Linked DNA regions of Homo sapiens. The protein of the gene in region 1 interacts with the protein of each later gene in a pairwise test. Each region holds a gene or a part of one and is shown in the gene's direction. Other genes may lie near its edges. The genes, in order: AGR2, GABPB1, ASPH, FAM110A, THOC1, IL36RN and ZNF410.

Region 1 (4,545 bases):
TTCATTTTCCTTCTAAAAGCAAGCCAACAAAAAAATGACTCTACCTAATCATATGTCCTTTTGAGCCCTCCGGCCCTTCCTCTTCACAGGTTGGCTTCCTTAAAGACCACTTCGCACCAGTAGTTCTTCCTTGCCTCTCTTCCATGGGCTCTTCCTCTTCCTCTTCCTACTCCTTAATGTGAGTGACATGATGAATCTCTACTTGACCCTTTTCTCTTTCCATATTTTGTATTCAGTGAACAACTCCATCTACAACTGCCTTTAATCAATTCCGACACACTAATAATTCCTACATCTTACCCAAACATGAAACAACTTCCAAATTGTCTATCCAACCATATTCCAGATATCTCATAATCAGCTTAAACTCAGTATGTTCCTCACTGCACATTAATCATCTTGGTTTGCGCTTTTCCAATAGCTCTTCTTTCTCTATTCCCTATTTTACTGAAAGTGGTACTGTGCTAGATTGGACTCTCCTACTTACCTACAGCATGCAATAAGCCCTGTGCTTCTAAATTCCAAGTATTCCTGCTACTAGTCACTTCTCTATAAACTCAGGACCACTATTTTAGTAAGCCTCTTTCACTTTCCCTAGCTTACTGTAATACTGCTAAATGGCTCCTGGTCTACAAGATAAACTCTGTCTAATCCCACATGGCTGTCAGAGAAGTTGCTTTACAGACCAAACTGGGGTCACAGTGCCTCTTCTAACATCCCTCCAGTGGTTCTTAACTATTTCTGAACAAAGGAAAACACTATGGCATGGTGTGCAAAGTCATTCCTAAGCCGGCCCCTGAAGCAGCTCTAGCACCTTCTTTCGCCACTGCCCTCGTGCATCCCCCCAACTCAGTCCTTCCCCAGCACTTGGCCATAGGAGAAAATGCTCCACCTGTCCTCTCCATACTCTTCCCCCTGCATGAAGTGTCTTTCTTTTCCACCTAACTGACTCCTGTTCATTTGTAAAGATTCCTCCTTATCCACTTCAGAAAGTCCTAGTCGGGGTGGAATCTGCATTCTGGGCTAAATGTCTTGCTCAAGGCAATCACCAAACCTGCATATCCTACACCGTAACATTTCACCCACTGCATCCTCAATATTCATTTTCCTACCTGTATCTCTCAATAGAGTGTGCATTCATTAAAGATAAGCACCATGCCTTGCTAAATACAGTTCTAAATAAAAATTGATAAATGGATAAATGAATACTCAAGAAAATCCCGTACTTGTCTCCGTAATTTCTCTAGAAATGACATCTGCTTTTTTCCTTAATAGCCTCTTATTTCATCCCAGATGTCTTCCCCAAACACAGTAACTCCTTCCAAATTCTCCCTTAATTTTTTTGCTCTTTATCACATCCATTCAGCACTTTATCTCATGTTCTGCTCTATCTTATTTATTATTTCATGCTTGTAACTTGTCTCCTCATCTGTACAATAAACTCTGTGTGGAAGAGTTATGATATCTTGAGATGCCTGGCCGGAAATGGACAGATTCTTGTATTAACAAGTTTGAAAACGACTGAAAAGTCAAAGTAAACTAAAAGATGCTTTTCTTTTTATTTTAGTATGAAACAACTGACAAACACCTTTCTCCTGATGGCCAGTATGTCCCCAGGATTATGTTTGTTGGTAAGCGGAAGTGACAGTGAGATAACTCGGAAACACATACTAGTGCTGCCATCCTCCTTCTCTCCTCCCCACTGTCCCTTGCCACGTTGCCATGGCCAATGTCATCACTAAGCTCTAGCAAGGAGCATGACATTCCTTTAAGTTCCGCAACATATTTTCTTTAGAAAATGTGAGCTTTTACCTATTTCCACACAACACTTTCTTTTCTCACATGCTAATTGTAACTTTTCATCTTCTGCTATAATACTTCTGAGAACAAAGCACCCTATTCACTATTTAAACATATTGATAAATTTCCTGAATACGAGAGGCCTGCAAATATTTATTTTTTAATCCAGCAAACTTTCACTTTGTGTGTTAGATTTTTCTGACATTTTTTATCATTATTTTTAAGAAAGTTAGGAATAAGGCTGGGTGGCTCACGCCTGTAATCCTAGCACTTTGGGAGGCCAAGGCCGGCAGATCACTTGAGGTCAGGAGCTCCAAACCAGCCTGGCCAACAAGGTGAAACCCCATCTCTACTAAAAAATACAAAAAAAAAATTAGCCAGGCGTGGTTGCAGGAGCCTGTAATCCCAGCTACCTGGGAGGCTGAGGCACAAGAATTGCTTGAACCCAAGAGGCAGAGGTTGCAGTGAGCCGAGATGGCACCACTGCACTCCAGCCTGGGCAACAGAGCGAGATTCTGTCTCAAAAAAAAAAAAGGAATATGAGGTGGGAAAAAGAAATGAAAGGAGCCACATGCTCCTTCCTGCCACTGGTACTTTTCATATGCTTTCCCCACTTCCTTCTCTGTCCCCCAATTTCACATCATTAACTCCCCAATCATCATTATTCATTGACCGAGTCAAATCCCTACTATGTGCTCTTGTAGTCATACTTTCCTCAGGTATAATTTTGCAGTTTGGGGGTGGTTATGTAATAAATATTTCCCACATTGGACTATAAGCCCCTATGGCAGGGACTGTACCTATTTCTGCTCACCATGATATTCCCAACGTGACCCTGCAGTAGGCTCTCCATCAATATGTGTTTAATTATTGAATGAATGTACTGAGTTTGGCTTTGTTCAAAGTCATACTGATTTAAGGACAATCCATAATGAAATCCATCACTTACAACAATTCATGCTAATCATATGATTCACCTGTGTAATTCATTAAAAGTTTACACTGAATGTACAAAGCAGGGAAAAGAAAAACAAGAAATAGAAAAAAAGGAAGAAGGCTGAACTAAAGCACTAATTTTATAGGTTTAGTTTTGTCAGAATTTAGGACATTTGGAATCCTAACATTAAAAGGGAATTTATAGATGTCTGTTCATACCTTGTACAGGAATTCTTTGTACAGCATCCCTGTGGAAGGGCATTTTAACCCACATTCAATTCCTTCAGTCCTAAGAACCAGCTCCAAGGCAGCTTGCTCTTCTAGCTCCGTAGTAGCCACCCTGACTACATGTTTGAATCACCTGGAGGATTTTAAAGATCAAGTTGCCCAGGCCACACCTCAAACCAATTAAATCAGAATCTCTGGGGGTGGGAGGCAGGCATCCATAGTGTTTACAGCTCTCCAGATGATTCCAATGTGCAGCCAGGTGAGCTGCTAGTTGGGTATTTAAAAAGCCCTTCTTAGGTTAATTTCTTACAAAGATTAGACCGTGTCTTTGTATCCTCTGCACCAAACAGAAGTATAGTTGGTCTTAAATCTGGTGAATAAATGTACATCTGCTTCTTGTAATTTATGTGTCTGGCCTTAGTCCAACATTCTGAAATGACAGATTGCCCACTCCAGTACCAGCGACAGACTTTGCAAACATGCAGATGGTTCTCACATGTCTTCCTTGTCTCATTTTCAGGGCACGTGTCCTAGGTTCTTTCGATTACGTCTCTCAAGGCAAGGTTTCCAGATCTCTCTGTATCCTCACGCTTCCCTTTTGGATGCACCTTAATTTTAAAATACCTCTTTTTCTCATTAATTAGATCACTTCAAGTTAAATACAAAACATGGCAAGATGGATTTAAATTTAGAGGGATATAAGTATACATAAGAGAAGACCAATCTCTACTTTTAAAAATGCAGTTAATTAACAATAAAGTAAAATATAGTGAAGGTACTATATGCTTATTTGAACTTTGCTGTTGTTAAGGACTTGCATTCCTCTATTAACTTTTTTTAAAAAACTCGTTTTGAAAACTAGCATTGGATGTGGGTTTCCAATGATCTAGAAACATGTAAACTACAACATAATCGTTTCAAGAATTTAAAATAATTTTGCAGTAGAGAATGTTAATGTTTTCACCAAAAAAAAAAAAAACACCATGTCACCCCTAAATATATATTATTCTGTTTTCAGGTTGCCATAGATAGAACAGAAGGGTTCATAACCTTTTCCACAAATAGCACTGCACAGCTGTTGATGTTTCCAGCCCTGCATTTGCTACTAACTGCCAGGGGCTGGGTAGTAGAGTGGATGGATCAGAGCTCCTGTGAGTGCAGACACACTCCATTCCCTCACAGGACATGAATACATGAACTTCAGCTCCCCGGGGCAATAAATACAGGTTGTTTGAAAACAAACCATTCCATTCCCTTTTGCTTCATTTATCTTTGCAGACCCATCTCTGACAGTTAGAGCCGATATCACTGGAAGATATTCAAATCGTCTCTATGCTTACGAACCTGCAGATACAGCTCTGTGTAAGTGTGACCTTCAATTCGGATGTTGCCCAAGAGTTGAACACCTCTATTGCTGTAGTGATGGGACTAGAGGCTGCATGGTGAGGTGAGAGAGAGCTAGGCTTAGGGACGCCTCGGACTCAGTTTGACCCTAACTAGCCTTGCATCTTCAGGCAAATCACACTCTTTCCATCTCAGGTTTGTTTGTTTTTAATCTCAATTGAAGATGAATTATTTAGA
Region 2 (4,545 bases), on another chromosome or scaffold:
CAAACGAAAATAGATTGGATCTTGGTTAAGTTCACTTGGTTTGGCCAGGCACAGTGGCTCACGCCTGCAGTCCCAGCACTTGGGGAGGTGGAGGCGGGCCGATCACCTGAGGTCAAGAGTTTGAGACCAGCCTGGCTAACGCGGTGAAACCCCATTTCTACTAAAAATACAAAAAATTAGCTGGGCGTGGTGGTGCGCGCTTGTAATCCCAGCTACTCGGGAGGCTGAGGCAGGAGAATCGCTTGAGCCAGAGAGGCAAAGGTTGCAATAAGCCAAGATAGCGCCATTGCATTCCAGCTTGGGCAACAGGAGCGAAACTCTGTCTCAAAAAAAAAAAAAAAAGTATGCTTGGTTTTAGTGTGTTTTTTCCCATAACATTGTGTCATTGTAATGGACCACATCTCCTGTACCATGAATTTTTTTTTACTTTTTTCTTTTGCCCCTCAGTACCAGAAATATTAACAGGTAACAGGTAAAGTGCACGTCATGAGGAATTCAGAAATTCAGAAATTACATGAAGTTTTGCATCATGAATTTATTTTTGAGGGTGCACGAGGCAGTTACCCAGTCTCTGTTTGCAAGTAGCCTGAGTTCAGATGAACTCACTGATGGCCTCCATCTCTTCTGACTTTGCAAACGTTGAAAAACAAACCCACACAAAATCTTGAAGTTGAGAGCAACTTAGTTTCCTTAGTGTCATCCCTCTGCTCCCCTCTCCTCCCCAACAACTAGTATGGTTTCCAGCTAGTAATCACAATGTTTCTATAGCTCTGATGTGCCTACATTGGGATAGCTACAATTAGTATTATAGTTTTCTGAAGATGTTTGTTCCATCATGCTTTCTAGAAGGTAAATCTAGCACTAGATGAGATCAGTATTAGGGCCTGTGTTTTTTCTCAGTGTTGACATCACAGTGCTCTATACAAAGAAGATGCTTTGGTGCAATCAGCTGTCAGTTCAGTTGGTGGGCTAGTGCACCTTTCTGTCTCCCTCCCTCCCTCCCTCCCTCCCTCCCTCTTTCCTCTCTCCTTCTCCCTCTGTCCCTCTCCCTCTCTCTCCTTCCCTCCCTGTTTTCCCCTTTGCACCTCTTCTTTCTTTGACAGGGTCTTGCTTTCTCTGTTACCCAGGCTTAGTGCAGTGGTGCGATTATACTTCACTGCAAGCTCCACCTTTCAGGCTCGAGCGATCCTGCCTCTGCCTCAGCCTCCTGAGTAGTTGGGACTACAGGTACCTGCCAACATGTCTGGCTAATTTTTTAATTTTTTGTAGAGACGAGATCTCACTGTGTTGCCCAGGCTGGTCTCAAACTTCTGGACTCAAGTGATCCTCCCACCTTGGCCTCCCAAGTGTTGGGATTATAGGCGTCAGCCAACACACCCATCTGTGAATAATTCTGAAGTTGGTAGAACAGCTTATTGACAGAGCAAGGTGTTAGCCCCACTTTACTGTGTACTAGTTATATTATATTTGGGGTATTGTGTTGGCTTTTTGGGTAGCATACTATCATAAGTGAGACCTTGTATTCATTCTCAGACTTTATCAGAATCATCTGGAGAGCTAATAAAAAGCCACACAGAGGCCCAAACTTAAGTAGGGTAGGAACGGACCTTAATTTTTCTCATTTCCAAGGTGGTAGACACCTAAGTGTCAAAATCACTTATCTGTAGAGCATAAACGAGGACCTTGATCATGAGAGAAATGGAAATGAGAAAAAGTTGAAAAAATGGGATGTTTGACCTAAAGAAGAGGAGCTTCTTTTAAGAAGTAACAGCCACTTTTAAGGATTTGGAGTTCTGTCATGCAGAAGGATCAGATTTGACTTGACCAGAAGGAACTAGGGTCAGTGGGTGGAAGTTTAAAAGAAGCAGATTTCAATTCTCTTTCAAGATAAATTTCCTCAAAATTGTGAAAATAGAATGAGTTGTTTTGGGTGGTAGGCTGTTCCTGTTCACTGACAAATTGGGGATTCTAGAGTAGAGGAATCGTACTGAAGGAGAATTTGAGCTAGGTGTCTTCAAGTTACCTATAAACTTTGAGGTTTTATTAAATATGCCGAGGTTTACAGGTGGAAGAACAAAAAGCTAATTGAGTGAAACAAACTGGTTAACTTGATAATAGTTTTTGCCTTCCTGGATAAAGAGAAATGAGTATTAAGTGAGAAGGCTATTTAATGAAGGGCTTTAAACCACACTGTAATTTGGTAGATTCAGCAGCTTTAAAAATTGGCATACCTTCTGACATGGAAATTCCCTTTAAAGAATTTTTTTTTTGATGTAGTAAAGATGTGTGTGAATATTTAATTGTGAGCATACTAGATGCAGTATTGTTGATTATAAAAGCTGTGTATTAATGCCTTTAAGCCCCACGGTAATCATATGAAGTGGGTAGTACTATTTCTGCTTTTCAGAAGAAAAAACAGGCATAGAGAAATGAGGTTGCTTGCTCAAGGTACCTGAGTTAGTTAAGTGTTAGGGCCAGGACTTGAATCCAACCAGTGTGACTCTAGAGCCAGTACTATTGATCATTATATGGTAAAATTGTAAACAACCTAAATGTTTCACAGTGATTGTTAGGGTCCATCCCTACAGTGGGGTACTGCCTTCTCAGCCATGAAAATGATGATAGAATAATATAAAGACATGAAAGGATGTCTTGGTATATGTAAGTGAGAAAAAATAAATTTAAAAACATGATTCCATTTTGGTAAAAAAACCCAAAAATATATTATGTCTGGAAGGATATGTGCCAAATTGTTAAATGGTTATTTCTGAGTGTAGTTTTACAGGTGATTGTTTTCTTTTTGCTTATCCAAATTTTCTAACTTCTACAATGAATATAAATTATCTATCATGTTGTAATTAAGATATTAAGATGTAACTTTTCAATAAAAAATTAAATGTGTTAGCATAAGCTGAGAAATTTGGGTTTTATACTCTGCATTTTAAGCAAGTTTGTAGAAATTGTACATGAGAATTTGTAAATGCATGTAGTGTTTTGTAATTTTTTGTTTGATTCCTTATTCTAGAAGTAATATCAATTGAGTAGAGAAACATATCACTCCTACCACCCTACCATAATCAATTATTTTGTTGTGTGTTGTTACTCTTATGTGTAATATTTTAAATATTCATCCCAGTGTCATCCCAGTTAGTCATACTCTAGCTGTGTGATTTTAGGCAGTTTACTTAATCTCTCCGTGGCTCAGTTTCCTTCTTTGTAAAATGTGGATTATTATAATACTTAGCTCATGATGATTGGAAAGATTAAATGTTATTTCATATAAAGTGAACAGAACAGTACCTGAAACATAACAGTTAATAGCTCAATAAATGTTAGCAATTATAGGATCACAGTCCACCATTCAAACTCTTAGGGTCTAATAGGTTATGGAATTAGGAATTTTTTTTTTATATGGGCAAGGTAGTAATGTGTAGCCTTCCAATAGAGTCCAGTGCAATATCCCCCTTCAAAAGTGTTACTGTTTCTGCAACAAAATGTATGAATGTTCGCACTAAATAGGATAAAGACTGTAAATAGCTTCATATCAGTTTGGGTAAGGTTTACCACAAGATGAGTTATTTTGGGTTTCAGAAGTTTTTTGGATTTTTGGAATTGAAGATAAGGAACCTATAAAATATTAATTTTGAGTCCTATTTTATAATATTAAAACATCTTTTCATGGTATTTTATAGTTTTATAGTGCATGGTAAATTAAAGTCAATTAAAATGAAATAATGGAAAATGTCCACCTCCATCTCCTTTGATTTAAAAAATACTCAGCATACTGATACTATGATTTAAAAAAAATTTTTTTTTTGAGATGGAGTCTCACTCTGTCGCCAAGCTGGAATGCAGTGGCACGATCTTAGCTCAGTGCAATCTGCGCCTCCTGGGTTCAAGCGATTCTTCTGCCTCAGCCTCCCGAGTAGCTGGGACTACAGGTGCGCGCCACGACGCCCAGCTAATTTTTGCATTTTTAGTAGAAACGTGGTTTCACCATGTTGGTCAGGATGGTCTTGATCTCTTGACCTTGTGATCTGCCTGCCTCGGCCTCCCAAAGTGCAGCAATTACAGGTGTGAGCCACTGTGCCCAGCCAAAAAGTTTCAAAGTTTAAAAAAAAAAAAATGGCCGGGCTCAGTGTCTCATGCCTGTAATCCCAGCACTTTGGGAGGCCGAGGCGGGCGGATCACTTGAGGTCAAGAATTCGAGACCAGCCTGGCCAACATGGTGAAACGCCGTCCCTACTAAAAATACAAAAATTAGCCAGACGTGGTGTGTGCTTGTGTCTCGGCTACTCGGGAGGCCGAGGTGGGAGTATTCCTTTAGTCTGGGAGGCGGAGGTTGTAGTGAGCGGAGATTGTGCCACTGTACTGCAGCCTGGGTGACAGAGCAAGATTCTGTCTCCAAAAAAAATTTAAAAAACTACTCCTGTTGGTCCTGACTGTGATTCTATTTTAAAGAATATCTTAAACCCACTAATGCTGTGATTATATTACATAATGTAGAATCTTTTTCTGAAAGAGGCTTGAGCATTCCTATAACCC
Region 3 (4,545 bases), on another chromosome or scaffold:
TATTTGAAACACTATTTGAAATTTTAGTTTGAGAAGAAGTATATGTGTTCAAATAGTACGTTTTTTGATATGTCTTACATTGAGAGTCAGAAAATGACGGCATTGGTCACATTAAACATTATTATTTCTTAAGTTGTTGTGTAAACGTATGGGGAAAAAAGAACCCAGTCATTTGAAACATGCATTTTAGGGAAAAGGTGATTTCTTTTTTTTTTCCTGGCCAAACTTTATCTTGGTGGTTTTTTTGCTGAAAAGTGATGTTTGGAAGCTGGAATTTGGGGAATTTATATCACAGATTTTTAAAGCAAGTGTCTGCTTTTTATTTTCTTCAGCTTAAGCTGAAAAATGATAAAATGGTTTTCTACAGAGTTCAATTTTACTTTTTTTTCAGTTTTACTCTTTATAATATAAAAGAAACATGAATAAATTAGACTTCCTACCTTTATTTTGCATATAGAACTGGACTTGCATGGCCAGTTGGGCCCAGGGGAAGCCTTTTTCAAATTTATTGATTTGAAAATAGTTTGACAAAGAAGGATCATGATGTCCTTTTGGGCTTATTTTGTAGACACTCGTATGTGTAATGTTTTCTGTTTGTTTGTTTAGTTTTTCCCTTTTGAGTATCACCCCTTAACTCCCTGTATCTCCTAGCAGCTTTCCATCTCCCTGTTTATTTTGTCTGGGTGTCCTGCTACTACATTAACTTTTGCCACTAGGTGTCACTGTAGAATATATCCCCCTTTTAGTTTGAAGCTTGGGGTTATGTAACAGCAGGTTTTAATTATTATTTAATCCGTCTGTATATACTCAAAACTATTGATAGATAAGCACTTAAAAACTCTTAGCTACTTTTTAACTCTCTCAAGGTGTCTCAGTAGATTGAGCAGCCTTTTTGTTTAGGCTTAATTAGAATGAAATATATTCCTGTACTGCCTGTAAAACATTAACAGCTTCATTTGATGAGTATTTGTCATTTAGAAACACACTTCTGAGTTTAGTTTAGCTTCCTTTTTCTTTCTACTTTGAGTGTCTCTTAGATTACTAAGTAACTGAGGGATTCAATACACTGCTGATTGCATTGTGGAGCCCTTGAATGAAGAGGCCCTAGCAAAATTTTCTTTCTTTAGCCAAAGACCATCAGAGCCAATTGCTTAATCCTCCATTACTCATTCTAAGATGAAAACATAGGAGGACCATAATTCTTCCACTGCAAGAACCGTCAGCTATTTTGTGTTCAGTTCAACAGCATTTTGTCCATCCTGACCAAATCATATGAAACCAAGCACTAAATAATGTTCTGAGGGAGTTTATGAACACATTTTCCAGAGACCAGTTAACCTCTGGTGGTCTGTGGAAGTGAAAGTTCTATATTTTGGACTATATTTTAGTCTTGCTTTAAAATAATCTGTCTCATAGAGATTATTAGAAAATGAATGTATGACATTTTCATTTTCAGCCAGTTATCAACAGAGGAACTTGGATAAAGGCTCATAGGGTCTATCCATCTTGTTGTTAGTTAATATCAGATACTTAGCCCCTGAGCTCTCTGGTTCCAATAGAAAAACCCTTTTCTCCAGAAAGCTAGTGCAGTTTGGGAGAAGGAATATGATGACCTGGATCATATCTGTGTAAGAATCAGAACCAAGAATCGCTAAAAATCTCTGTTCCCAGCCTCCTTAAATGTAAAGAATTATTATCTACTTTCTTTTCAGAGTTTTGATATCACTAATGCTGATTTCATATGGCTTTGTGTTTCTCAGTTGTTTCCGTTAAAGTACGTCTAATAGTAGGGGTGAGTGCAAAACTTTGGAGACTATAAAAGTGTAGATGTCATCAGGCCATTGCATGCTTTGACTTTTTTGATGATTTATTCTTATTTATTTATTTATTTTCATGTTCCATAGCATCTTTGTGTTAAGTAAAATGTATATTCTTGAGATAGAGTTTATACTATGCTTTGAGGACTGCTCGATACATTTCTCTCAGCTTCTGGAGGTGTAAGTATCCATTTGCACATCAACTTTCAAGTTGGTGATTTGCCCTTAATGGCTCAGAAATCTGTAACATTATTTTATCTTACCCAGGCTCAGATATATTTAGTCTTTTGAGGTAACTCCAGCCACTGTTTTAATATCATGAAAATATGCAGCTTAGTTTGTGGCTTGGATACTTCCATATCACCTCTAAATGGCTTGACTTCATTCTGTACCAAGGTACAAAAATGTTTTTCAAATGAACTTCTCTTTAATAAACCCTGTATGTACATATAACCTATGTACACCCCACCTAAACCTCCGGGGAAAAGCCTCAGCCATCTATCGGGAAATGTGGAGGTGCAAGGGCTGCTTGCTTCATTATCTGCTGCCAGTGTCTGCTCTGCACTGCACATGTGGGTGTGATGAGTTTCTCTGGTTCGGTCCTGCAGCTCTGGCCATTTTTATTAGAGGACTAAGGATTCAGGATGTTCTTTTCTTCCCTGTGTACCACTGTGGGAGTATAGTCTGGAGGCCAGTGCTTTAACTTTTTTTTAATTATACTTTCTTCTGGTACTGCTGGGAGCCAAGATGGTATTTTCTTGTTAGTCATTATTTTTAAAATTTTAGTATTTTATTCCCCTGATGTGAGGGATGCTTCAGGCTTTTGTCCTGCATTTGATCTTTGTTTTTCAGGGATGTGTCTTGGTTACCTTTGGCTGATGTGGTTATCTTTTAACGGCAAATCACTGAATGTAATTCAGTTCCTATCAAATTGGCCACAGCTGAGGACAAATTTGGTTTAGATAACCTATTAGACTCAAAGGAAATGTTGAGCTCCCTTGGTGAATAACTCTTTTTAAAAAGAAAATCATCTTTTGAAGGATCTGGGCTATTCGGCCCCCTGTGAGATTCAGGTCACTTGCCTAGTCATGTGACTGTCATCATCTGCCGTAGATACTATGTGTGCTCCAGAGCGGAGAGCATTGGTGAATTGACTTGGTTGAGGGGTGGGGGGCTGGGGGGTGGGAGTGGTTGCTGTCCAGTTATAGTCAGGTTTCCAAGGGCAGCCACTATCTCTGTACTTGGAGAAATGCCAGCACTTCTCTCCTACATGTGTGCCCACACGTTGAACCCAGTGACTCATCCTGTACTTAAGACCCCAAGGATCAGTCTTAAATTTAAAGTAGGAGAATATCCTTTGATAATTTTATTTCACAACCAGCATTGTTGTAACTGCCTTTTCTCATATTTTACATAGGTTTGACAGCCATTTCTACCATTCCATAGTGCAGAGTCACTATTATTTTGTTGTTCTATCCTGTCTGTAACTTCTTTTTCTTATTTATTATTCTTCTAATATACAGTTTTTGTCCCTATCTTTCACAGGCTGCTTTCAATTTCAATTTTCTTGGTATACTGGAAAGACTCTTTTGGTCTTAGTTTCACTTGTAAATTTTATTTAGGACACTTAATTTTTTGACTTACATAAACCTCAAAATCTGTGTTGTAAATATTTGTTGAAAGAATATCTAGCATTTAACTACTTTTCCATTCTTTGAATCAAGTCAATTTGTATAAGATGCTTGTCACTGAGTTTTTGTAAGTTGTTTCATGGATTTGCTTTTTGGCAGAGAGCTAGTTCTCTAACCTTTATAATAAAAATATTTCTGTGTATTGCTCTTTAAAATTGTATGTATTTGAAATAGTACATATTTAAGCCTATAAATAATTGTAGAGAGTAATGCAGTGGATGCCCATGTACTGACCATATAGGCGAAGAAATGAAACATTATCAGATTCCTAGATTTTCCTCTCCTGTGGTATTCCTTCCTAACCATTGTTAAACATTTTATGGTAGTCATTATCATAAATACAGGTATATATGCACAAAATAATATATAACATGTAGCACATACACATTATGTATCCACACATGTAAACTGTATCTATTATTAAATCAATGTATTTGAAAACTGCCCAGGAAGTATATCTATATCCCTATGTGTAGAAATATACCTATACACACACACACATATATGTATATATACTGTATAGCACGTATTAAAAGTTTTGTGAACAGGCTTCTACTTGGCATACTATTTTGACAGCATTTGTTTGAAATTCCTCCAAACTCCAGTTCTTTATTTTCACATATGTAGTTCTACACCATATGAATATGCCTTGCTTTTCATTTAGCCATCCTATCGCAGGCCACTTTTTTTCTTTCAAATAATGCTGCCCTGTACATGTATGTGCCTATCTCTCCCCATGCATACATGTCTGAGTGTTTTTCTAGGGCATAATCTGGAATTGGAATTGTGGGTCATAGAAAGTACACACATTAGACTTTACTGGATATTGCCATTTTTTAACCCCCAAGTGGTTGTATCAACTTACAGTTCTGCCCCTAATGAATAAGAGCTTGTTCTGTGCCATCATCACATTGTCAACATTTGGTGAAGTTTAATATTTGCCAGTTGAGTGGCTGTGAAGTAGTACTTGAGGGTTTAAACTTGCATTTTTCTAATTACTAGTGAAGTTACTGGTAAGAGTAGCCTTGTGTTTCCTC
Region 4 (4,545 bases), on another chromosome or scaffold:
TGGGGGGGGGGGTGGGGTGGGGCAGTGAATGAATTAAAATGTATATAAAATAAAATTTACCATTGTAACCACTTTTAAGTATACAGTTCAGTGGCATTAAGTACATTCCCCATTGCCTCTCCCCCCAGTGCCTGGCAATCACCATTCTACTTTCTGTTTGAGTGAATTTGACTACTTTGGGTACCTCTAGGTATTATAAATGGAATCATAACAGTATTTGTCTTGTTGTGTCTGGCTTATTTCACTTAGCATAATGCCTTTAAGTTTCACCCATGTTGTTGTATGTGTTAGAATTTTCTTTTTTATGGCGGAATAATCTATTCTAATATTCTATGTATATGCCACATTCTGTTTATCCATTCATTCCTTGATGGACACTTGGATTGCTTTTGGCTGTTGTGACTAATGCTGCTTTGAGCATGAATGTACAAATATCTGTTTGAGTTCCTGTTTTTAATTGTTTTGGGTATACACTCAGAAGTGGAATTGCTGGGTGATCCTATGGCAATTCTGTTTAATTTTTTGAGGAACTACTTTACTGTGTTTCACAGTGACTGCACCATTTTATGTGTCCATCAGCAGTGCACAAAGTGCTAATTTCTCAACATCTTCACCAACACTTGTTATTTTCTGTTTGTATTTTTTTTTTGGTAATGGCCATCTTCAGGGGTGTGATGTGGTGTCTCATTGTGGTTTTAATTTACATTTCCCTAATGACTAATGGTGTTGAGCATCTTTTCCTGTGCCTGTTGGCCATTTGTTATCTTTGGAGAAATGTCTGTTCAAGTGACTCTGCATTGTTTTTTTTTTTTTTTTTTTTTTTTGAGACAAGAGTTTCGCTCTGTCGCCCAGGCTGGAGTGCAGTGGCGCCATCTCGGCTCACTGCAACCTCTGTGTCCCGGGTTCAAATGATTCTCCTGCTTCAGCCTCCTGAGTAGCTGGGATTATAGGCCCCCGCCACCATGCTGGGCTAATTTTTATATTTTTAGTAGAGACGGGGTTTCATCATCTTGGCCAGTCTGGTCTTGAACTCCTGACCTTGTGAACCACCTGCCTCAGCCTCCAAAGTGCTGGGATTACAGGCTTGAGCCACTGCACCCAGTCATGACTCTGCATTCTTAACCATTACCTGTGCTTCTCTTAGATTTGTAACCTCTGAGAATAGTGGATCAGCTTTCTGGGCTGATGAAGCCCTCCCTCAGGAGCTGGGCACTGGATGATCTATTTGGTTGAATAGTTATCATAGCCTGCACTTTGGTGACATTTGTCATGCATGGACCTCATGCAGAGAGGGAGGCACTGTTGTGAGTCCTGTTTTGCAGTTAGGGAAACTGAGATATGGAGAAGTTGAGTATTTTATCCAAGGTCTCATAGCTAATCATTGGTGGAGCTAGGATTTGAATGGGTTCTGGAGTCCATGCTATACCTTACAGATATGGCCAGGGGGATGGAGTAGTGAAGACCACTGCAGGCAGCAGAACCAGTGTGTGCAGAGGTTTGTATATGGTGGCTTTGGAGAAAGAACAGGACTTGGGTAGAAGTGGTCAGAGCCCAGCTTGAATGGGGGTGACTTGAAGTTGGAGGAAGAGTAGGACAGGTCTGGAAAGGCCAGGAGCACGGTGAGGGTTTGGGGAGGAGGCTTGGTGCTTAGGGACCCTGTCCTTTTTTTTTTTTCTCTTCTCACAAGATATTTATTAATTACAAAGGGAAAATAATAACTGTACAGTGGAGAAATTTGGCAGATACTGCCTTAACCAAGGAATTGGCTGATCACTAAGATTAAGACAAACTGTTGTTATGAGTGGGTGTGGTAATGTACCTATAGTCCCAGCCACTCAGGAGGCTGAGGTGGCAGGATTGCTTCAGCCCATCTATTTGAGGCTGCAGTGAGCTATGGAGTGCACTCCAACCTGGGCAACACAGTGAGACCTCATTTCTAAAAAAAGAAAAAAGAAGCCTTCTGATACCATGTACTAAGAAGGACACAACATCACTTTTGTGTTATTCTTGACAGATATGTTTAACTTTCTCTCCTTTCTTTCTTCCTCTCTTTCTTTCTTCTCTCTTTCTTACTGATATAAGAAAAAGCTTTATACATTTAATATATACCTCTTGATGAGTGGCCTTGGCCTTTGAGGTGGGCTGGGTCCAGAACAGCCGGTTGTTCAACGGTATTTCCTCGTGTTTGGTCCCTGAAGGAAGAAAATTGGAAGGGTGTGATGGAGCTCATGGTCCAGTGGGAGAGACAGGAAACGAGTTATATTTCCTATCCTAGATAAGAGTATCTAAAATGACAGGATGTAATGAGTGCTCGGAAGGGAATAAAATGGGTGAAATTGCTGAGGGGGTCTCTTGGAGGAGATGACATTTGAAATGAGATCTGAAGGGGGTGAGGGAAGAGGTTCCAGACAGAGAACAGCTGGTGCAAAAGCCCTGAGGCAGGAAAGACCTTATGTTCAGGAACAGCAGGGAGGGCTTTGTGGCCAGAGCAGGAAAGAGGTTGGAGATAAGATGGGAGATTTGGACAAGGACTGAGTCCTGGAAGGCCTGAGGGCCAAGTGGGGAGCTTGGATTTTTTTTTTTTTTTTTTTTGAGACAGAGTCTTGCTCTGTTGTCCAGGCTGGAGTGCAGTGGCTCAATCTCAGCTCACTGCAGGGAGCTTGGATTTTATTGTAAGGGAGCCACAGGAGGGTTTAAACACAGCAGTAATGAGACTTTATTTCTGCTGGGAAAACATTGCCGTTATTGCCCCCATTTTACAGCAGAGGAAACCGAGACTCAGAACCATGACCAGGGAGTGCTTCCTAAGGTGGTTTCTCCCTCTGGGGTCCAGCCGACGAGGCAGTAGATTCCTTGGGACTTCCTTGGGGGGCACATCTGGTGAGTGGCCAAAGCCCAACACTGAAAACACCGTCTCTTCCACCTCCCCTCCCCAGATGTGAGCCTGGGTTCCAATCCTGGCTCTACCATTAATCAGCTGTGTAATTTTGGGCACGTGGCCTTACCTCTTGGAGCCTCAGTTTTCTCATCTGAAAATGGGCATAATAATAGTAGCCCTCACAGGGTAGGTGTGAGGATTAAATTAGTTAACATTTTGTAGAGCTTAGAACAGTGTCTGGTACAAAGAAAGTGCTCAGATGAGATTTGTTCTTTTCTTTTTTGGCTGTAAGTTTATTCAATGTGAAATAATCCTCTCCAATTTTATTGAGGTGGCTGACCACGTCCACGACCACATCTGCCTCTAAACTGGAATTCGGTTGCTGACCCAGCCCCAGCCTCGGCTTTCTTGTCAGCACCAGGGGGCACAGAACACCGTCTGTAGGTATCTCTGTCAGCTTCCCGTCTTGTGAGTCTTGCAGGTCGCTTACCCTCCAGACCTTTAGGCCGAGGCCTGCCAGTCTCTGGACGGCTGCGGTGTAGGGTGGCAGGAACAATCTCCGGGGGCAGATGTAGGGTGGCAGGAACAATCTCTGGGGGCAGATGAAGGTAATCACGGAGATACTGGCTACCCTCATTGGTAAGGTACCAGTAGAAATGTCTCCAGGCAAACTGTTCCTTCACGCAGCCCCGGGACTTGAGAGACTGCATGGCCTTCATGACGTGAAGGTTGGGCACATTCTTGTCTGCCAGCTCCGGGTGCTTAGGCATGTGGACATCCTTCTTGGCCACCATGACTCCCTCCTTAAAAAGGAGTTCATGAATGGCAATCCGGTTCTTCTTAGGCATCAGCATCTTGGCAGCTGTAGGGTCCGGGGCTGGGGCTGGAAAGGAAGGACTGTTCTTTTCTTTGCTATTACGAAAATCATTATTGTTGCTTTGCTGTTACTACTATTAGCGCCTGAAGGAGCCTTCCCTCCCCATCCCCCATTTCTGCCTCCGTGGAGGGCTAGGCAGGGCTCAGCAGGCCATTTGGAGGATGAAGGACTTGTTGCCCCGTCCCCTGTAAAGTCAGGGACTGGAGGAGGCTGCAGTGCTGAGGGGGAAGGAAAGCTGATGTGCATCACTGCCGGTCTCCTCATGCCCTGTACCCTAGTCCTGGCCCAGCTCCCACAGGCACAGACATGGAACAGGAGCCTCTTCAGCCTGAGTGTGGCAGAGGGCTGGGGCTGAGGCCTGGGGGACAGCTCCTTCTCTGGGCCTCAGGATTCCCATGAAAAAATGGCCTATCAAATGTTCCTACCTGCAGTGAGTTATAGGACTTGGGGTGGAAGAGGTGACAGTCACCTCCCTCTGGGAATTCCTTCCTGCAGGGCTGCAGTCTCATGGGATTAAATGAGGGGGCTCTGGGGATTTAAATGAGTATGGTGCCTGGCACCCCAAAATTCTAGTTATTGTTGTTACTATGACGGCTGTTGTTGCCGATGTTAACCGTTTTCACAAGGCAGCTGAGGCATGCTCAGGCTCAGCCTGTTCCAGAGGGATGGACTCTACACGTGACAGCATGGAGCACCAGGAGGGTCCCGCAGCCTGGTCAGGGACACACAGCTAGAAAGTGGTGGCGTTAAGCCTTGGTCTGGAGGGAAAGTGCGCAGGCTGGACTCCCCA
Region 5 (4,545 bases), on another chromosome or scaffold:
GGACACAGGTTGTGAAAGCTCTTGGGGGAATCACACTATAACCCAATGGTTCCCAGACTTGCTGGCTCATCAGAACCACCAGTGAATCTATTTTTAGATGAGATTCCCAAACCTTGCTTAGTTCTACTGACTCAGAATTTTGGCAGTAGAATCTAGAAAAAGTTCTATAATTATTAAATGTGAGTTAACTTATTCCAGGCTATACTGCAACTAAGGGCAGAAAATATGCTTCTCAAATCTCTTGGATGTGCAGGGTATATAATATCATTGAATCTAAGTATTGTTAGGGACTTTAGAGGTCACCTAGTCCAGTCTCATCTCTGGCCTAGACTGCTTCTCTGCTGTAACATCCCTGGTGGGTGGTCATTCAGCCTCTGCTGAATCATGCTCATTAGTGGAGCTCACTGTTTGAGTCCTGTTAGACAAATGTGGTTATTGGTGTGTTCCCTTGTATTGAGTTGAAATCTGCTGTTTTATTTCACCCACTGCTTCTAGGCAATATCCCTCACGTCGCATTCCAGATATGATCTTACTAGTGCAGAGTACAGCTGGAAATATTTCTTCCTTTTTTCTGGACATAGTATATTAATGCACTGTTTTGGGCTTAGATCACCCTAGATATTTTTCCTCCATATACCATGCCTAAGTGACTACTTTTCTTAAACACTTATGAGTGTTAGTAAGTACTCATTGCCTTAAAATAGAAGGAAGAATGAGTAGGGATATAAAAGTATTCTAAGTAGTCTAGATAGACTACGTAGACCTTTTCTTAAGAAAAATCTTAATTTTGTTGTTCTTTAAACAGTAACTTTCTACTTTTCCATTCTTTCCCCTGAAACAATACTGTTATTTTAAATGTTGAATCATAGTTAATATCAAACCTTGTTATTTTTTGAAGATAATCTTTTCAAATCACAAAGACAATTTAGCAACATTACAAAACATTTAGAAATAAGAAGGGAAAACAGTACTCTTAATTCCTCTACTTTTAAAAGCTACCATTCATCTGGTATAATGGTTTTAGTTTCTATAGTCTTTTAAGAATTTTTTTTATTGTCATAACCATATGTACATACAATTTTGAATCCTGCCTTTTTTCACTTAGCATTATATCATAAGCATTTTTCCAAGTTATTATAGTCGTTATAACCATCATTTTTAATTGGCTGCATTATATTCTTTTGAATAGCTTAGTGGTGAAGAAAACAGACTGTGGAGCCAGACTGCCTGGGTTCGTATCCCAGCTCTACCACTTACTGGCTCTATGATCTTGGTGAAGTTATTTAACCTCTCTGTGTCTCAGTTTTCCCATTCTATAAAATGCAAATAATGATATGCTCTACCTCATAGGATTGTAAGGATTAAATGTGTTAGTATATGTAAAGTACTTAGTGTGCCTGACATATAGTAAATGCTCTAGATCTTGTCAAGAATTATTGTCATCATTACTGAGTGCACATATCAAAAATTACTTAAGTATGTCCTATTTGGGGACTTTTAGGTTGCTTCCACTTCTTGTCCTTTTAAAACCTTGTTATGAGTAACAAAGTGTACCTTTTAAGATATTCTTCAGAATTATTTTTCATAGGCTATTCTACTCTACAGTTTTTTAAACTTTTAAATTGGCTTGTGCTCCACTTGAAGGTATTTGTACCGCATCTACACCTTTTGTATTGTTGGGAGATGTTTTGGATTGTCTTCCTTTGGATCAGTGTGACACAATATTCACTTTTGTGGAAAAAAATGTTGCTACTTGGAAATCAGTAAGTGCCTTAGTTTCTTTTCCTGCTAACTTTATCTTTCTATAGATCCAGAATTCTGAGGGTAGATTTTTTTTTTTAAATTTATTTGTAGTATTGCTGAATGCCAACAAGTTTCTGCCTATGAAAAAATTATATACTGCTCTCTCGGGAGAGCCAAATAAAAACCATGTGTGGAGAAAAACTTGAAATACAAAATTTGATTTAATTTGTGTAATAAAAATTAACTTGAAAATTCACACTTTCACATGTTTAAAACAGTTACTTAGTATCATGTTTTCTTATATCTGAAAATATTTTTATTTCATTGAAAATGTTATTTGCTTAAAAAAAGTGAAAGTGGCATAGTAGATTCTCAGTGCATGTTAGTGTTCTTTAATATTTCACTCTGGCAACTTATTATTGAAGAATGTGTAACAAGTTCTGAAGAAGAGTGATAATTTCCGTCTTAATTTCAGAATACATTCTATTCTGCTGGGAAAAATTACTTACTACGTATGTGCAATGGTAAGTAATTGAGTGATAAAATGATTGCTTTTTAAGTGTAAATATGCCCAGAAAAACACATGGTTGAATTAAATACCAGTGATAACATTTTAAAGATAGATTAGGTATCTGCATTTTTAACTAACAATCTGATTTGTTAGAACTCATTATTCACTTTAAACTGTTTTTGTTCTGGGCATAAGCTTAAAGTCAGAAACGTAGTAAAGTTTGTCTTTTTCATGTCATGTTGAACTTGTTTTGTTCCTAATTTATAGTACTTTTTTGTGGCAGTGGTTTCGGCCCCCAATTTAAGAACTACTGCTTTAGGAAAATACTCTTGACACACTGGTTTAGAAACTTTTAGGTGTGGTTGTAATAAACATAGAATTATCTTTTCTGTGTAACGTTCATTTTCATATATTGTTAGATCTCCTAAGAAGATTGTCTAAATCCCAGAATACAGTCTTCTGTGGACGGATTCAGCTCTTTTTGGCCAGGCTTTTCCCTCTGTCTGAGAAATCAGGTAAGCTTTTATGCATTAAATGAGTTTTCTGCAGGAAAATCTTTTCCAGTTTTTAATAGATTAAAATCTGTCATGATAATGAGAAAAATGGTTCTAAAAAGTTGAAAGACATCATAGAAATTGTCACTTTATTTTCTTTTACTTATAAATGTATAGCAGTCCTAGTATATAATACAGGTAATCCTGAAACAAAGTCATGGATTCTTTTAAGTTCAAAGCTTATTAATGTAAAGTTGAATCACACTGAAACATGTAGATATGAACCATCATATCCGTATTTCATAATGTATGCCTATTTTTGTGTTTGGATTTTCTCTCAGTCACAACTATTTAGCTATATAGACTTCCTTTCATTTCTCTTTTTTTAACAAATTTTTATTGTGAAATATAACGCTCATATAGAAAAGTACATAAAGCGAATAATAATGAAACAAATACTGTATAACCACTATCTAGCTCCTGAAATGGGACATTGCTTGTCCTCCAGAGCCTTCCGCCTCCCCAGTATGTTCAAATATGCGAGATTTTAATATCTCCTTGCTTCAGTCCTCCCTTCCTTAATATTGGGCTAATGTACCACCTACTTTATATGTTCTGAGGATTAAATGAATTAAAACATGTGAAGAGCTTACATTAGTGCCTGCATGTAGAAAGACCTATAGCATATGTTAGCAGTGGTTTATGTGCTTTCTTTTTGTCATCTTATGTCTGTGCTGTTTTCTTTCATACTTATTTTATGTGGTCAGGGTTAATATAGATTTACCACTTCTTGTATTTCTGGCTTTCTGTCTGTGATCATTTTCCCTTTTAGACTTTTCTTCAGTGCAGGTCTGTGTTTTGCCTAAAAATCGTTACTTCTCCTTTATTTTTTTTCCTTTCTTTCTTCCAAACTCCTGTTAATATTGGTATTTTGACCTCCTCCCAATAGGTATAAGATTCTAGATTGGCACTAGATACAGGATTTCATCTCACGGGAAATAATCTTTACTTTGTCTTCTGTTTCCCATTTTTCTATTGACAAGTCAGATGTCAGTCTCACTTCTTGAAGATAATCTACATTTTTTTCTCTGCGCTTAAGATTTTTTTTCTCCTTTGGTTTTCTTTTAGTTTTACTATGATGTATCTCTGTGTAAATTTCTTTTTATTTGTCCTGCTTAGGATTGTGGACATCTTGAATGTATGGATTAGATTCTTCCATCTAGTTTGTAAAAATTTAGCCATTATCTCTTCAAATATTGTGTATGCCTCTTTATCTTTTTCTTTTTCTGGAACTTCAATTAAACATCCATTATACCTTCTCACTGTATCCTCTGTTTTTTACTCCTTATATATTTTTTCATCTGTTTGTCTCTCTCTACCTGATTCTGAATAATTTCTTAAGAATTGTTTTTTTTAGTTTTCTAAACTTGGTAAACATTGTTACTTTATTGTCTGTATCTGGTAATGCCAATACCTTAAATAAGTCTTGGTGGGTCTGTTTCTCCTGTCTGTTTTGACTGTTTCTCACTCATGGTATCTTGCCTCTTTGTGTGTCTGGTTATCATTGGCTGTTACGTTTGAGAAGATGTGCTCATTGCTACTGGAGTATCACTACTTCTAGGCCCTCTCAGAGACCAGAGCTAGGAGAGACATATGTGTATACTAACCATACTCATCTGTATTTGTTTCTGTATCTGTCAGTATATATTTTACATGAACAGCAGCAAAAAATATGAGATTCTACTGATACCTCTGAGTTGAATCCAGCACCAGTAGATCTGTTTATTAACCTCTTTC
Region 6 (4,092 bases), on another chromosome or scaffold:
AGGGGGTTGAATCTATTTTGGGGTGTAGAGGCTTGAAGATTTGACCCTGAACTAGAGGGTGGAGTGGAGGTGGTACAATGTGCTTCCATGCCTTGATGTCCACTCTGAGCCAGTGGACAGGAGAAGCCATGTCATGACAGCTGCTGAGAAGCCTCCCTTCTGCCCAGCCTGGGGGCAGGCCGTCTTACAGCAGTCCTGTGCCCTAGAGCCCAGGACAGGGGAAGAAGGAGGGAAAGGCATCCAGGGCCCTGCATCTGGCCTCTTTCCCACAGGTGAAGAGATCAGCGTGGTCCCCAATCGGTGGCTGGATGCCAGCCTGTCCCCCGTCATCCTGGGTGTCCAGGGTGGAAGCCAGTGCCTGTCATGTGGGGTGGGGCAGGAGCCGACTCTAACACTAGAGGTGAGACTTGGGGCATCCTCACTGGGGACTCAGCCACAGATGCTGAGCCTACTGAAGCCGGGCAGCCCACAGCCCTGGTGCTGTGGGACACCCTAGCAGGATTCTGTTGATGGCAGCTTTGCCTCCTCCCTAAGGATCCTGCCCAGCCCTCCCTCTGCCCCTGCTTCTGCCCTCACCTGACCTCCCCTCCTCTGCCGGCAGCCAGTGAACATCATGGAGCTCTATCTTGGTGCCAAGGAATCCAAGAGCTTCACCTTCTACCGGCGGGACATGGGGCTCACCTCCAGCTTCGAGTCGGCTGCCTACCCGGGCTGGTTCCTGTGCACGGTGCCTGAAGCCGATCAGCCTGTCAGACTCACCCAGCTTCCCGAGAATGGTGGCTGGAATGCCCCCATCACAGACTTCTACTTCCAGCAGTGTGACTAGGGCAACGTGCCCCCCAGAACTCCCTGGGCAGAGCCAGCTCGGGTGAGGGGTGAGTGGAGGAGACCCATGGCGGACAATCACTCTCTCTGCTCTCAGGACCCCCACGTCTGACTTAGTGGGCACCTGACCACTTTGTCTTCTGGTTCCCAGTTTGGATAAATTCTGAGATTTGGAGCTCAGTCCACGGTCCTCCCCCACTGGATGGTGCTACTGCTGTGGAATCTTGTAAAAACCATGTGGGGTAAACTGGGAATAACATGAAAAGATTTCTGTGGAGGTGGGGTGGGGGAGTGGTGGGAATCATTCCTGCTTAATGGTAACTGACCAGTGTTACCCTGAGCCCCGCAGGCCAACCCATCCCCAGTTGAGCCTTATAGGGTCAGTAGCTCTCCACATGAAGACCTGTCACTCACCACTATGCAGGAGAGGGAGGTGGTCATAGAGTCAGGGATCTATGGCCCTTGGCCCAGCCCCACCTCCTTCCCTTTAATCCTGCCACTGTCATATGCTACCTTTCCTATCTCTTCCCTCATCATCTTGTTGTGGGCATGAGGAGGTGCTGATGTCAGAAGAAATGGCTCGAGCTCAGAAGATAAAAGATAAGTAGGGTATGCTGATCCTCTTTTAAAAACCCAAGATACAATCAAAATCCCAGATGCTGGTCTCTATTCCCATGAAAAAGTGCTCATGACATATTGAGAAGACCTACTTACAAAGTGGCATATATTGCAATTTATTTTAATTAAAAGATACCTATTTATATATTTCTTTATAGAAAAAAGTCTGGAAGAGTTTACTTCAATTGTAGCAATGTCAGGGTGGTGGCAGTATAGGTGATTTTTCTTTTAATTCTGTTAATTTACCTGTATTTCCTAATTTTTCTACAATGAAGATGAATTCCTTGTATAAAAATAAGAAAAGAAATTAATCTTGAGGTAAGCAGAGTAGACATCATCTCTGATTGTCCTCAGCCTCCACTTCCCCAGAGTAAATTCAAATTGAATCGAGCTCTGCTGCTCTGGTTGGTTGTAGTAGTGATCAGGAAACAGATCTCAGCAAAGCCACTGAGGAGGAGGCTGTGCTGAGTTTGTGTGGCTGGAATCTCTGGGTAAGGAACTTAAAGAACAAAAATCATCTGGTAATTCTTTCCTAGAAGGATCACAGCCCCTGGGATTCCAAGGCATTGGATCCAGTCTCTAAGAAGGCTGCTGTACTGGTTGAATTGTGTCCCCCTCAAATTCACATCCTTCTTGGAATCTCAGTCTGTGAGTTTATTTGGAGATAAGGTCTCTGCAGATGTAGTTAGTTAAGACAAGGTCATGCTGGATGAAGGTAGACCTAAATTCAATATGACTGGTTTCCTTGTATGAAAAGGAGAGGACACAGAGACAGAGGAGATGCGGGGAAGACTATGTAAAGATGAAGGCAGAGATCGGAGTTTTGCAGCCACAAGCTAAGAAACACCAAGGATTGTGGCAACCATCAGAAGCTTGGAAGAGGCAAAGAAGAATTCTTCCCTAGAGGCTTTAGAGGGATAACGGCTCTGCTGAAACCTTAATCTCAGACTTCCAGCCTCCTGAACGAAGAAAGAATAAATTTCGGCTGTTTTAAGCCACCAAGGATAATTGGTTACAGCAGCTCTAGGAAACTAATACAGCTGCTAAAATGATCCCTGTCTCCTCGTGTTTACATTCTGTGTGTGTCCCCTCCCACAATGTACCAAAGTTGTCTTTGTGACCAATAGAATATGGCAGAAGTGATGGCATGCCACTTCCAAGATTAGGTTATAAAAGACACTGCAGCTTCTACTTGAGCCCTCTCTCTCTGCCACCCACCGCCCCCAATCTATCTTGGCTCACTCGCTCTGGGGGAAGCTAGCTGCCATGCTATGAGCAGGCCTATAAAGAGACTTACGTGGTAAAAAATGAAGTCTCCTGCCCACAGCCACATTAGTGAACCTAGAAGCAGAGACTCTGTGAGATAATCGATGTTTGTTGTTTTAAGTTGCTCAGTTTTGGTCTAACTTGTTATGCAGCAATAGATAAATAATATGCAGAGAAAGAGAAACAAATGCATTTGTTTTATTATTGCAATTTTCTCCAATATTTTTTATTTTCTTTCTCACAATGAACAACTATCCTTCATTTACCCAAATATTCTATTTAAAAGCTAATAATACAGCATTTGTTGAGTCATCTGGTTCTGCAAGATTGAGATCCTCTTGTCCTATGTGCCAGGAATGAACTCCAGTGTCCCCACCCAAACCCTGGGGAATGGGAGCAGAAGCCAGAGGAGGAGCCCATATCTGAGCCCCAGGTATTCCACCTGCACTTCACCTGTTGGACCAGCTTGGTGGTTGAGAGTCCACTGAGGCACTGGCAAGGAGGTGGCCAGGACAGACAAGGCTGCCTCTATGGACCTCACAGCTCCAGCCCAGATTCAGCTGAAGTCCTCAGGCAACAGGCAGCACAGCTCCTACCCCAGGCCTCTCAGGGCTGCCAAGAACATGAGCTCCGGATGCTAGGCTGTGTTTCAGACCCTGTTCACACTCTCTTTGTCCATGGGCCCAGACACAGTCTTGTGCTGCTCCCTCTGCTTTTGGGTCCTCCATCCATCCTCTCTGCCTAGATAAATCTCTCATCTTTCAATACCCTGCTAAGATGTCACCTCCTCCAAGAAGCTTTTACTGAGTTGAGACACCCCCAGCTATCTGATCTGGCAATGTTTGTATGCACCTCCCTGCACTGTAGTACCTTAACTTGGAGTCTGTGGCCCCTGGGATGACCTTAAGGTTAGGGACATATAAGTTTGTCTCTTAGCACCTTGCATAATGCTTGGCACATAATGGAAACCCAATGAGTATATAATGTAGAAACTATTTCTCCACCCTGGAATATTCTCTCCTTCTCCTCCACCCATCTAAACAGGCCCACCTCTAAGGGAGCAGCTTAAATTCCACCTCATTCTTGAAGGTTTCTCCAGCCTGAATTTGTTGCTTCCTCATTTGTAGGATGACAGAACTCAGAAGAGCTTTAGCCATGATGAGCCGACACAAGTCAGTAGTAAAAGAAGGAATATAAAATGCCTCCTTCAGGAATGTACAGGCTGGACATCATGACTCTACAAGTGAAAAAGAGTTAGTGGCTTTAGATTTCTGCAATTTTGGTATAAATCACTGGCCTGGACCTGTATTTACAGAGATGCAATACTCACATCATGTGGGGTTTGTACAAATTGCAGACATCGAGGAACAGAGAATGTTCCAA
Region 7 (4,545 bases), on another chromosome or scaffold:
CAGAATGAAGTTTAAGACTTTTGGAGCTGTGGTTCTTAGAATAATACTATGTTTAAATACCCTTTAAATCATTGTTTTAATATATCACCAGCTTGATATGTAGATTTGCTTCAGTTTCTTTTTCAAAAAGCCTTGATTATAGGTGTGTCTCTTTACCATGTTCCCTCCCTCCTTCTCTTATAGGTATAAACACTTTTTATTTCCTATTTGGTTTACTTTTCCAGTGGTTCTTTTTGCATATACAAGCAAATGCAGGTTATTTAAGTTGAGATATAGTTCACATACCATAAGATTCATCTCAAAAAAGTGTGCAGTCCGGCCGGGCATGGTGACTCATGCCTGTAATCCCAGCATTTTGGGAGGCCGAGGTGGGTGGATCACCTGAGGTCAGGAGTTCAAAACCAGCCTGGCCAACATGGTGAAACCCCATCTCTACTAAAAATACAAAAATTAGCTGGGTGTGGTGGCATGTGCCTGTAATCCCAACTACTCAGGAGGCTGAGGTGCAAGAATCACTTGAACCTGGGAGGGGGAGGTTGCAGTGAACCGAGATCATGCCACTGCACTCCAGCCTGGGTGACAGAGTGAGACTCCATCTAAAATATAAAAAGAAGAAAAGGGTGCAACTAAGTGATTTTTAGTAGTAATATAATTATCCCTTGTTATCTGTGGTGTATAGGTTCCAGGACCCCACAGATACCAAAATCCACAAATACTCAAGTCTCTTACATAAAATGGCATGGTATTTGCATATAACCTACACATATCCTCCCATATGCTTTAAATCATCTCTAGATTACTGATAGTACCTAATACAACGTAAATGCTATGTGAATAGTTATGCTATATTGGTTATTTGTATTTTTTATTGCTATATTGTTATTTTTTATTTATTTATTTTTTTAGATGGAGTCTCGCTCTGTTGCCCAGGCTGGAGTGCAGTGGTCCACGATCTTGGCTCAATGAAACTTCCACCTCCTGGGTTCAAGTGATGCTCCTGCCTCAGCCTCCCAAGTAGCTGAGATTACAGGCATGTGCCTGGCTAATTTTTATATTTTTAGTAGAGACAGGGTTTCACCATGTTGGCCAGGTCTTGGAACTCCTGACCTCAAGTGATCTACCTGCCTTGGCCTCCCAAAGTACTAGGATTACAGGCATGAGCCACTGCGCCTGGCCTGTTATTTTTTATTTTTATTTTTTCTGAATATTTTTTATCTGCTTGGTTGAATCAATGGATGTGGATGGCCAACTATATATTCATAGTTTTACAGTTTTCTCTACTGTCCGACTCCACAACATTTCATCATCCCAAAAAGGATCCCCATATCCAGGAGATGATTAAAAAAAGAAAAAGAAGTCCCATTATTAGTATCATTGACCATGTCTCTCTTTCTCCAGCCCCTGGCAACCATTAATCTGCTTTCTGTGTCTGGATTTGCCTGTTCTGGACATTTCATATGGCCTTTTTTTTTTTTTTTTTTTTTTTTTTTTCCCCTAAACGGAGTCTTGCTGTCTCCCAGGCTGGAGTGCAGTGGCGTGATGTCGGCTCACTGCAAGCTCTGCCTCCTCGGTTCACGCCATTCTTCTGCCTCAGCGTACCGAGTAGCTGGGACTACAGGCGCCCGCCACCACGCCCGGCTACCTTTTTGTATTTTTAGTAGAGATGGGGTTTCACCGTGTTAGCCAGGATGGTCTTGATCTCCTGACCTCGTGATCCTCCCGCCTCAGCCTCCCAAAGTGCCTGGATTACAGGAGTAAGCCACCGTGCCCGGCCTTTTTTTTTTTTTTTTTTTTTTTTTTTTTTGACAGAGTCTCACTCTGGCTCAGGCTAGAGTGCAGTGGCATGATCTTGGCTCACTGCAACTTCCACCTCCTGGGTTCAAGCAATTCTCCTGCCTCAACCTCCCAAGCAGCTGGGATTATATGCGCCCGCCACCACGCCTAGCTAATTTTTGTAGAGATGCGGTTTCACTATGTTGGCCGGGCTGGTCTTGATCTCCTGACCTCAAGTAATCTGCCCGCCTCGGCCTCCCAAAGTGCTGGGATTACATGTGTGAACCACTGCACCTGGCTAAAATAAATTTATTTTAGATTCAGGGGGTACATGTGCAGGTTTGTTACAAGGGTATATTCCAAGATGCTGAAGTTTGGGCTACTAATGACCCTGTTGACCAAGCAGTGAACATAGTACCTGATAGGTAGTTTTTCAGCCCTTGCCCCGTAGCCGCTTTTGGAATCCCCAGTGTTTATTGTTCCCATCTTTGTGTCCATAAGTACCCAGTGTTTAGCTCCCGCTTATAAGTGAGAACATGGTGTTTGATTTTCTGTTTCTGTGTTAATTTGCTTAAGATAATGGCCTCCAGCTGCATCCATGTTGCTGCAGAGGACATGATTTTGTTCTTTTTTATGGCTGCATAGTATTTCATGGTGTGTATGTGCCACATTTTCTGTATCGTATTTACCATTGATGGGCACCTGGGTTGATTCCATGTCTTTGCTGTTGTGAATAGTGCTGCATTGAACATGTGAGGGCAAGTGTCTTTTTGGTAGAGCAGTTTATTTTCCTTTGGGTAGATAGCCAGTAATGGGATTGCTGGTTCAAATGGTGATTCAGTTTTTAGTTCTAAGCTTTGTAATATTCCACCCTGTTTCTATTGTATAGGTTTTTTTTTTTTTTTTTTTTTTTTTGCTATGCAGGACTACTGCAGTATCTATAGCTTTTTAGTCAGTCTCTGTGATGAATATTTACGTTGTTTCCAGTATTTAGCCATTTAAAATAATGTTGCCGTGATGAATAACCTTGTGCACAGAGTATTTCACATTTTGCTGCTGTAATTTTGGGACATATTCCTAGAAGTGGGATTCCTAGGTCAAAGGGCAAGTGCATCTACAATTTTTCTAGATCTGGTCAGATTCCCCCAAAGAGGTTTTTGTATTTTGCATTCCCAGCAAAATACAATCAGCAATGATGATTGCTGTACCATGTGTTTGTCAATTGTGAATTTGTTCCTAGCATTTAGAAATTGGGAGATTCTACTTAAAAATCCTTATTTCCAGTGTCTTAAAAAAAAATCAGAGAATCTGCCTTAATCTACCCATGGCAACAGTTGGCTAGAGCTGAATAACAGCTGCCCCTTTTCTAGGTACTCTCTAGGTTACTGCAGCCCCCACTTGGCCATTTTACTTACTTTTGCTACCTATCAGTCTCCTATAGACATGAGTTTTTGACCCCTGCTCTAAGTATGGTTTTCTGGGTAGGTAGAATGGAGACGGAGAGTTTGGGACTTGAAGACATAGAGGACAATTTAGATTATTATGTTGTAAGAGCCACCAGTGTGAATGTTGATGACCCTAAAGAGGGTGGCAGGGAATATGACAAGGGGATATTAGGAACACAGGATTGAAATCCTTGAGGAAAGCACATGTCCTAGAGGTCCATGGAAGACTAACTGAAAAAGAAGGCATATTTTTTGTGGTTGCCATGGTCCTATACCAAAGAGGTTTTGTGAAGGCAGCATTACAGAAGGTCTGGAAAGGACCAGCAGCTGGGAGCAGGGAGTGTGCTAAAGCCCTCCTGGTGTACTCTTCCTGCCTTCCCCCATATACTGAAGTTTGAGAGGCTGGGAAGGTGCGGAATGGGAAAAGGAGCAGCTGCTTATGTTCAGTTTAACATTCTCTGGGTTTCTCCATCTAGGTCTTGAGTTCATTCTCTTCCTGTCCTTTTGGCTTCCTTGTTTAACCTGGTCCCTGTTTCAGGAGAGAAGCCTCATCAGTGCCAAGTCTGTGGGAAGACCTTCTCTCAGAGTGGAAGCAGGAATGTGCATATGAGAAAGCATCACCTGCAGCTGGGAGCAGCTGGGAGTCAAGAGCAGGAGCAAACTGGTGAGGAGGGTGGGCATAGTGGAACGCTGTACTACTTCTAGGGTTCCAAGAGCCAAATCACTGTCCTGCCTGCTTATCTGGAAATTTTCTGATTCTGTTTTGGGTAGATAGACCTGGTCTCATTTGATGGGCTGATGGTTTCCAAACATAGCTATACAGTAGAATCATCTGCAACCTTTTAAAATTTATATACTTTTTGTTGCTTGTCCGCCCACCAATAAAACAAAGCAATCTGATAAATGAGATAATTTGCAAGATCCTAGAATCTGTAGTTTTAAAAGTTTCCCTAGTGAGTTTGATGGTAACTAGTGCTGATCCATGAACAAGCATTTGAGTAACACAGTGATAAAAGATTTCCACATGGGAAGAGTTTAAGCTTTTTAATTTTTTTAGATGGAGTCTTGCTTTGTCACCCAGGCTGGAGTGCAGTGGCGCCATCTCGACTCACTGCAACCTCTGCCTCCTGGGTTCAAGCAGTTTTCCTGCCTCAGCCTCTTGAGTAGCTGGGATTATAGGCAGGTGCCACCACACCTGGCTGATTTTTATATTTTTGTAGAGACGGGGTTTCACCATGTTGGCCAGGCTGGAAGCATATTTTATTTACCAGTCATGACTACCTTTTTGCCCTGCCTGAAATTTGATAACTCTTTTTAATTCTTATTC

Evidence for each region.
Region 2: the proteins of AGR2 (region 1) and GABPB1 interact in binary tests that used the Homo sapiens proteins (3 or more experiments, as listed by UniProt).
Region 3: the proteins of AGR2 (region 1) and ASPH interact in binary tests that used the Homo sapiens proteins (3 or more experiments, as listed by UniProt).
Region 4: the proteins of AGR2 (region 1) and FAM110A interact in binary tests that used the Homo sapiens proteins (3 or more experiments, as listed by UniProt).
Region 5: the proteins of AGR2 (region 1) and THOC1 interact in binary tests that used the Homo sapiens proteins (3 or more experiments, as listed by UniProt).
Region 6: the proteins of AGR2 (region 1) and IL36RN interact in binary tests that used the Homo sapiens proteins (3 or more experiments, as listed by UniProt).
Region 7: the proteins of AGR2 (region 1) and ZNF410 interact in binary tests that used the Homo sapiens proteins (3 or more experiments, as listed by UniProt).

What each region holds. Positions count from the first base shown.
Region 1 is NC_000007.14:16,794,717-16,799,261, reverse strand, and holds part of AGR2 (anterior gradient protein 2 homolog precursor), read left to right. Parts: intron 1-1,567; coding exon 1,568-1,631; intron 1,632-4,242; coding exon 4,243-4,326; intron 4,327-4,545. UniProt on the Homo sapiens protein: Required for MUC2 post-transcriptional synthesis and secretion. May play a role in the production of mucus by intestinal cells. Proto-oncogene that may play a role in cell migration, cell differentiation and cell growth. Promotes cell adhesion.
Region 2 is NC_000015.10:50,348,133-50,352,677, reverse strand, and holds part of GABPB1 (GA-binding protein subunit beta-1 isoform beta 2), read left to right. Parts: exon of another isoform or gene 1-3,742; intron 3,743-4,545.
Region 3 is NC_000008.11:61,707,325-61,711,869, reverse strand, and holds part of ASPH (aspartyl/asparaginyl beta-hydroxylase), read left to right. Parts: intron 1-4,545.
Region 4 is NC_000020.11:836,246-840,790, forward strand, and holds part of FAM110A (protein FAM110A), read left to right. Parts: exon of another isoform or gene 1-3,770; intron 3,771-4,545.
Region 5 is NC_000018.10:257,404-261,948, reverse strand, and holds part of THOC1 (THO complex subunit 1), read left to right. Parts: intron 1-828; exon of another isoform or gene 829-1,231; intron 1,232-1,644; coding exon 1,645-1,763; intron 1,764-2,218; coding exon 2,219-2,267; intron 2,268-2,673; coding exon 2,674-2,769; intron 2,770-4,545. UniProt on the Homo sapiens protein: Component of the THO subcomplex of the TREX complex which is thought to couple mRNA transcription, processing and nuclear export, and which specifically associates with spliced mRNA and not with unspliced pre-mRNA.
Region 6 is NC_000002.12:113,061,852-113,065,943, forward strand, and holds the end of IL36RN (interleukin-36 receptor antagonist protein), read left to right. Parts: intron 1-272; coding exon 273-400; intron 401-601; coding exon 602-826; 3' UTR 827-2,893; downstream 2,894-4,092. UniProt on the Homo sapiens protein: Inhibits the activity of interleukin-36 (IL36A,IL36B and IL36G) by binding to receptor IL1RL2 and preventing its association with the coreceptor IL1RAP for signaling.
Region 7 is NC_000014.9:73,917,224-73,921,768, forward strand, and holds part of ZNF410 (zinc finger protein 410), read left to right. Parts: intron 1-3,756; coding exon 3,757-3,882; intron 3,883-4,545. UniProt on the Homo sapiens protein: Transcription factor that binds to the sequence motif 5'-CATCCCATAATA-3', and is specifically required to silence expression of fetal hemoglobin in adult erythroid cells.